Homo sapiens: one gene and its partner. The protein of the gene in region 1 interacts with the protein of each later gene in a pairwise test. Each region holds a gene or a part of one and is shown on either strand. Other genes may lie near its edges.

Region 1 (3,817 bases):
ATCTAAAGCATTCTCCTCAGTTACTCCCTTTTGGAACATCTTGATTTTCTTTTTTTCTTTCATCACATGTCCCAGCATTTTATTTGGTTAGTTACATGTTTAGTGGCTTTTCCTTCCTCTAGCGGTAACTCTGGGAGGCAGCAGCTATGTCTTACTAGCGATGGGTGCAGTGCCTGGCACAGAGCAGGACTCAACATACACCTGACGAGACGATGTGCAGACTGATAGTTACCAAAGACCAATGTCACCTCCTCGGCATCACGCTGCCTGCCCCGAAACGTCAACGCTGTCCACCAATCGCAAAAACAGACATGATAAAAGAGTTGTCCCTTTTCATTAGTACAATGCTAACCAGTGGCCAAAAAAACCACAAAACAAGCAAAAGACAATAATAAGAGATACCAAGTAAATTAGGTAGTCAGTGCCTTCATCATTAAACATTCCCAGAATGCATCAAAATGACATGAAGGAATCACACAACACATTGGAAGAGAAATCCTTGCCTTTCAGATCTTTCACGTAGCCCTCTTTGCAACTGTGCATGAGCTGAAGGATCCACTTGTGTTGGGCTCCAATGCATTGCCAAGCAGGGTCACCAGACGCATGAAGGTCAGACAGGTACCTGAAAAAGCAAGTCCAAGGTTGAGGCCAAAGGGAAATGCTGGCATATTTTAAAATCATTACTTTTTAAAGGCTAAAATTTTATCAATTAGTCTTGTGCCCTGTCAAATATTAGTCTTTAATATTTAATTCTCAATGAAATATATTCAAATTTCTTGGCTAGGTGAGATGGCTCCTGCCTGTAATCCCAGCACTTTGGGAGGCTGAGGTGGATGGATCACCTGAGGTCAGCAGTTCAAGACCAGCCTGGCCAACGTGCTGAAACCCCGTCGCTACTAAAAAAAAATACAAAAATTAGCCAAGTGTGTTGGTGCAAGCCTGTAATCTCAGCTACTCGGGCGGCTGAGGCAGGAGAATCGCTTGAACCCGAGAGGCAGAGGTTGCAATGAGCTGAGATCTCACCACTGTACTGCAGCCTGGGCGACAGAGTGAGACGCCATCTCCAAACAAACAAACAAGCAAACAAAAAATAAAAAAATAAACAGCAGAGCTTTAAAATTTTTTCATATAAATGATAAAACTATTAAAAACAGCTCTTTGTAAAAAGATAAGGACAATTTGCAGTGATCCTATCTACCTGATGAGCATTTTTCTTTATATTTATATTTAGTTCACAGGAGTTTTTCTACTTAGTTCAGAGTCATTATATTAGACACAGGTGGGAGCCAGCAGATACTGGGCAAATACTTTTAAAATTTCAGATGTTTTTTAATTCCTTTCTGATATGAAATATGGCCACGAGATGGCAGTATGGCACCGCTTTCTAAAACTAGCTAAATGAGGGCTAACCGAACTGTGAAGAGATTTGGTGACAACACTCACCTCTAAAGTCCACACTCACGACTGAGAAAATATTTCTCTAGGAAATATAGTATAGTTCGGTGTTTTTCTTAGTTTCTAAATATTCTTAAAATATATCAAGTCTTTGTCTATAAAACACCCAAATCCATAGAGACCATTTACTTCCATAGAAAAATTTCTGTCAAATATTATTTAAGATTTGGCCCTCAGCCCTCACAAAATATATAAATATAGCAAGCTAAATCCAATTAAATCAACTCCAAAAGCATGTCCAAATGAATTTATTGTCTTAAAACTGTTGTTAAGCCATATGCCATTCTTTGTCTCTGGGTTAGAGGTTTTTGTTCAGTGGTAAATCATCATCAATGGCTCCAGGCTGACCTTGGGCCAGACCTCAATCCCTCAGGGGTGCACCCATGCTTCCAGCCCATTCTTCCAGTAGTGAGTGTGTGTTACTCAGGTATCTCAATCAGCAGCCAATCAGAGGAGAAACAAATCCACTTTGTAATATGTTAGCAACAAATAAAATGCTGAGAACACTGACATTCCCAGCTGATGGGGAGGGACTGGGTGCTGTGGGGAGCCGGATATCCAGGCATCTGCAGACGGGCCACACTCAGGCTGCCCAGAGGTGGCTGAGAGCTGCCATCTCCTCCCCCTTGTGACCACCTACAGGTTGCAAACAGGATGTGTCTCTGTGCTGAGAAAGTGGCAGGTCAATTAGAAGGAAGAGCTTTACTCAGATTAAGAAGTCACCAGCACTCCTCCTCATAAATGAGAATAGTATCCTGAGAAGAAAACTACAATCTAACAAGTTACATTTAGCTTGGCACAGGGGATTCATTTCAGATTCCAAAATGCAGTCTGATTCTTTCTCTCACACAAGGCTTTCTTCTTTTATTACCTGAACGATAAATATAACAAATAGTACACTGTGTCTTTCTTCCCAAAGAACGTGATTCTATGCTTTCTTGCTGGGGATGATGCATTTCAGCGTTCTCCCTAAATAGGCTTGTTTTGCCTCCCAACACCTCTGCAACGCTTTCTCCTAACACTTTCACTCACGTAGCCCTCAGATTTGGTGTTAGTAGTAAAATAAAGAGATACTCTTTTAGGGACGGTGTTCCTTTTAATGTTTAAATTACTGAATAGGAGTGTAGACAGTTCCGTACAAGGGTTCTTTCTCCAGGAGTACAGCAAGAGGAATCAATAAGCTTTGCTTAGTGGCTTTTTACATTATACGTCTCTTTAAAATGTTGACTGTGTCCTTGCAAAACCTAATAACAAAAGACTTTTTCTATCATCTTATTAACGGGTATTAAAGTAAAGGAGTTTATAAAAGTTTTACAAAGCAAGATAAAGTTGTTCTTTTAGAAATTCTAGACTCAGTTCAAAAGCATGACAACTTGTGCTGGGCTCTTCAAATAAGTTTCTTGTTTCCTTTCAGTATGCAGCTAAAAATAAGTAGTTACATTTCAAAACTCTGTTTAGAATGATACATGTTATCGCCATTTCTTTTAAAACTGCATATTAAGAACACTTTAAAAAGGCTTTTTAGATTCAAAAGCAATGTAAAGAATGTTAATTATGATTAACACAGGCTCAGTATTTTAAAATTTAAGAATAAAGGAAGTTTTTAGTCATATTCTGACATGATCTTCTCACAGCTACCAGGGATAAGATCACACTGCTGTGGAAAGGAATATGCAGAGCTTTGCTTCCTGCCAACATCAAGATAGAAATAAGGAGAGGGAGAAGAATAGGGAAGGTTTAAATTAGATAAAATAGTGAATGATATTAGAAAAAATTGTGAACAGTAAGACAATATAGTGGTAATCTGATTTTCCCCTCTACTATGCATAATCTGGATTATGTAAGAAAACTAATACATTTTTGTTCATGATAAAGCTATCTCTATTCCTACTTGATGCTCATAAATTTCAAAGTCCAACAGGTATTTGACCTGGTTCTGATCTTATTTTTCTATTTCTTAGCGACTAAAAATTTCATTTAAAAAGGTAACAATTGCTCAGTATTTTCTCAAAGCATCGTAAATAAAATAATCATTAACAAATACATAAACTATTGTTGACTTGTTTATATTTTTGCTCTTTTGCCTTTAAGATGACAGGAAAAATCGTAGTTAAAAGGCTCCTTAAAAGAATCTTTTTTGGCACTACCACCTTTTAAACGATATCCAGTAAGTTATATACTCATAAAAACTGCACATGAGTTATCCATATAGATGGTAACCCACAACATAAAGAATTTGTACACTCAACAAGATTTAACACACTACTATAGGCAAGTTTAACATAACAAGTGTAAACAGGCCAGAAATATACAAAGCACACGCAGTGAAGGAGCAGGGCAGGAAACAGCAGCCTCAGGACGT
Region 2 (4,395 bases), on another chromosome or scaffold:
TGTGTTTGACTGTATACAATTCTTCTCTAATCTTTCCACCCTTCTTAGGTAAGGGAATTTTATTCAAATTCTTCTTTCTTTTTTTGTTTCATTTTTTAAAGACAGTTTTCCAAAGCTTACAAATGTTTTCCCCATTACCACTTAATTGAAATATGTTAGCAATGTTTTCAGGCTGACATCAAAATCTTCCCAAAAAATTAAAATTTAGGGCTGCCACTCCCTACTTTAGTACTGTGTTCTGTGTGTGAATTACTCCTTCACTCCAATGCCTAAATATAAATTCACTCATTTAGCTAAGTGCTTGTGCTAGGTTTTAAATATTTTAAATAATTTAGTACAGTGAACCTTCTTATAAAACTGAGCTATTCTGTGCATTAATTTGAATACTTCCGAGGTGAGACTGAGCCCCGAACATGACTCCATATAGAAGTAATCCTTTAGGGAAAACTAACATTCTCCCTAGAGGATACCAGTGTTAGAAGAAGGTTAATCTTATTTATTGGGATATATGTATGTATGTATGTGTATACATGTGCATATATGTGTACGTAAATGTGTATATGTACATATACATGTGCATACACTATATGGAGAGAAAGACAGATACAGATATAGAAGGAAGATGAAAACACATCTTTTTTTCCTTTAGGAAATCATATTTCCTCTGTTTATGAGCAATTTCCATAATCTGAAGTTTACACATCCTATTTTCTACCACTAAAGCCCCTACTGTTCAAAACTTATTTGTCAACCATGGAAAAGACAACAGAAAACACCAGCTTGAGAATGTCCAGGACAAAACCTAAAGCATGCTTTAGAATGGCTGTCCTGCCAAATTGCTTTTTCAAGATTTACTGACCTGCACTCTGTCTTCAGTCAAATTCAGGCGTGCTGCAAGTCTCTCTCTTAGGGGAGAAAATTACAAATATTCAGTATTTGGAGTTGTGGATAAAATGCAATAATATGAACGTGGCTCGGCTCAGCACTTTGGGAGGCCGAAGAGGTTGCTGAGGTCAGGAGTTGGAGACAAGCCTGGCCAGCATGGTGAAACCCTGTCTCTACTAAAAATACAAAAATTAGCCGGGCATGGTGGCACATGCCTGTAATCCCAGCTACTCGGGAGGCTGAGGCAGGAAAATCGTTTGAACCCGGGAGGTGGAGGCTGCAGCGAGAAGAGATCGCGCCACCGCTCTCCAGCCTGGGCGACAGAGTGAGTCTCAAAAAAAAAACATATATATATATATATATGAATGTACATTATTTCTCTCCCCCACCTCCCAGTGCAGTTTTCTGTAATACGGTTGGGACTCGCTTTAGGGAGGTTTTTCCCATTAACAACTTCGCTGTTAAATAAGATAGAAAAAGGAAACATATGTAAAAGCGCCCGATGGTTTGTTAGCTGAATATGACTCAATTCTTCTGTTTGTGAAACAGCAGAGAACAACCCTGGAAATCTTTCCTTGGGAAGTCCGTCCGTGAAAAAAAAAACAAAAAAAAATTAAATGCCAAAACACCTTTAAAGCGCTGTATTGAACCACAGTATTTCTGTTTATCGTAAAAAGGAGAGGTGAACTCTCAGGGAGGGAACTCCAAACCACATCGGCCAAGCGCGCCCTAGGGAAATTCTTTTTTGCTCTTTGCCGGGCGAAGGCTAAGTACAACGAAGCCAGAAAGGTCCCCTTAACCCTACTCTGACCTGTCCAGGTGCCCCCCGCCCCCCATTCCAGCCTGGCCAGAAAAGGCCTGCCCCTTCGTACACTACGGGTCGGTATGAGGAGGGCTCCGATGAGGCTAGCGAAGGAAAGGGGTCGCTGGCTACCGAAAGCTCAAAAGTCCGCCCCCTGGTTGTAAAAGTGCGCTCCACGTGGCAGGGCGGTTACTAGGGCGAAAAGAGTGAGGCGCTCGCCACGCGCGCACAATGTAAATGGCGCTAAAAAACTCGATAATCAAGACAAATAATATTTTAATGCAATATTAAAACGTATCAAAATTAATGCAAAAACAACCCATGGTGAGCAAATTGCCAAAATTTTAAATAAAGGCGGGATCCCACCCTGCCTCACTCGCTTTACCCTAGTCCCGCCCCAGTCTTTTACATCCTCCGCGCCCCGCCCACCACGTCCCCCAAAAACCAAGGGCGGAGGCAGCGCCCGTGAGCCCCCTACGTGGCTTTTAGCTCCGGTGAAAGGGTCCCGGGATGAACTGGGCGCCTCCGGGGCAAGCCACTTACCGCGCCACAACGTCGGGATATTGAGATTCATCGAAAAAGTTCTCTAGCTCCTGCAGCTGAAACTGCGTGAACGCGGTGCGGCGGCGGCGTTTCCTCTCTGGGGGCTGTGGTCCCTCAGCGGTTTGTGGCCCCTCCGCCGGCTGTGGCCCCTCCACGGTCGTCTGGGGCGGCTCCTCCTGCTCTTGCTTCAGCTCGAGCAGGGGCGGCTCCTCCTGCTGTTGCTCCGGCTTGGTCAGGGGCGGCTCCTCCTGCTGTTGCTCCGGCTCGTGGCCGCCGCCACCCTCACGGTCTTGGTCGTCCGAGGGGACGGACCCTTCCGTGCCAACGTTGTTTTCCGCTTCTGTTCCGTACTCAGGTTTGGACCGTGTATTCTCCTCGTCCTCTCCTCCCCTTGCCATCAGCGAGGTCACGGTAAGTTTCTCATCTGGGAAGGGAGGAAAGCAAAAGAGACACCAGGGCGTTGGAGCCCACGGCGCGTGGGCTGGAGGAGGCAGGGGACCCGCTATGGAAGAGCAACTGCGACAGCCGCGCAGCGTCTCCTCCGCTTGCCTCTCCCAGGGAAAAATTCCTCTTTTGGAGTTCGCGAAAGCTCCCGTCCCTGTCCAAGCACTAACCATTCACTTCCTCGATGTCCTCGCCGACTGCCAGGCTGCGGTAGCCAATATCACTGTGGGTGTACCCGCGAAGAGACTCCATGCTTCAAGCGCTGTCGATAAAGCTGTGCACTTCTGCAGACTCTGTGCGTGGTTCCGCGGCGATCCCGGGGTTGGAACTGGCTCTGGGACCAATGGCTCGGGCGAGCGCTTTTCTGGCGCCGGGACCTCTTTCTGGCGCCGTCTGGCACTTGCGCGCCCTATATAGCGGTACGGTGCCTTCCGCAGGTTCAAAGCGTATGCACACGCGTCGGTTAAACGCCCCCTATTAGCATTCACAGTACATCTAGTTGTGAGTGCGACCCCCGGGGGACGCATTCGTGTCCAGGGCGTACGAAAAATAGGGCGAGCGTGCGCAAGCATGGTGCAGGTAGTGAACATGCTTTGCGGGGAACAGTGGCCCCAAATTGCTGCTTAACTAACTACTCCCAACTTGAGCAGAGACCCAGATTGGAAAAAGCGGCTGGGTTGTGAAAGCCGATTTGGGGGCGAGGAGACGAGGGGGCGAGGGGGCGAGGGGGCGAGGGGGCGGGGTGAGACCTCGCACCAGCCCGTGGAGAGGTATTTTGGCAGTGTTCCTCCGCCCAACCGTCTTTACCCCGCAGCACTTGGGTGGAGCGATGCCCTTTGCTTCCCCCACGGAAAAGACCGAGAGATGGCGTTGAGGAAAGCGCGGAAAGTTCAGCAGCCCAAACATGCGAAAGTGAACTTGTTAGTCTACCATGCAATTGGGTTCTGAGCACGACTCTCCCCTGCTAGAAATTAGTGACAAATGGATAGGACTATCTAGTTCTGTACAGTTCGCGCCAAAGTCAGGATAGTGATAAGGTGCAATGATTGGCTAGAAGGCTGCTTGCTCTGGATTTTTGAATTCAGAACCCACCGTGCATTCCGGGAGCGGGAATTTGGGGCTGAATTTGAAGAGCAGTCCGCTGCTCAGGTGCACGCTGCAAGAAACCCAACGTGCTTTTTGAGAAAGCTCCAAGGACTTAAGCTTTTTAGTAATGAACTTATGTCAGAGTGCAAGTATAGAAATCTGCTAAGTGCATAGTGCATCCAAGAATGCTTACACTACGGGGGCCCCGTCTTTTGATGCGCGGCACTTGAAACGTCTGCTGTACTAGGTTCCTGCGCTTCTTATTGCAGCGCGCTTTGCAGAAGCCCGTTCTGCAGGCTCCTAAAGCGCGCGTATTCCCCGGGTTTGTGCTGTGGACCTGGGAGAGTTCCCGCCTTCCCCACTACCCCTTCTTCCTCCTCCCCCTCCCTTTTTCTAGAACTATCTTCCTGAATTCTTGCTCCATAGTGATGTATCACATTAAAAGTCCTGGGCTATGATTGAAGGCTGTATGGTTCTCCCTCCAATAAGTGTTTGCAGGTTCTCCAGGACGTGTTAATATCCGTAATATTATAAAAATAACTCTGTAGACTTAGTTACTAGGGAGGCTGAGGTGGGAGGATCGCTTGAGTCCGGGAGGTCAAGGCTGCAGTGAGCCATGATCAGGATACTGCACT

The links.
Region 2: the proteins of EXOC2 (region 1) and ESX1 interact in a two-hybrid assay, tested with the Homo sapiens proteins (one large-scale study listed by BioGRID and IntAct).

The regions. Positions count from the first base shown.
Region 1 is NC_000006.12:591,966-595,782, forward strand, and holds part of EXOC2 (exocyst complex component 2), read right to left. Parts: intron 623-3,817; coding exon 504-622; intron 1-503. UniProt on the Homo sapiens protein: Component of the exocyst complex involved in the docking of exocytic vesicles with fusion sites on the plasma membrane.
Region 2 is NC_000023.11:104,251,924-104,256,318, forward strand, and holds the start of ESX1 (homeobox protein ESX1), read right to left. Parts: upstream 3,011-4,395; 5' UTR 2,927-3,010; coding exon 2,845-2,926; intron 2,655-2,844; coding exon 2,231-2,654; intron 906-2,230; coding exon 860-905; intron 1-859. UniProt on the Homo sapiens protein: May coordinately regulate cell cycle progression and transcription during spermatogenesis. Inhibits degradation of polyubiquitinated cyclin A and cyclin B1 and thereby arrests the cell cycle at early M phase. ESXR1-N acts as a transcriptional repressor.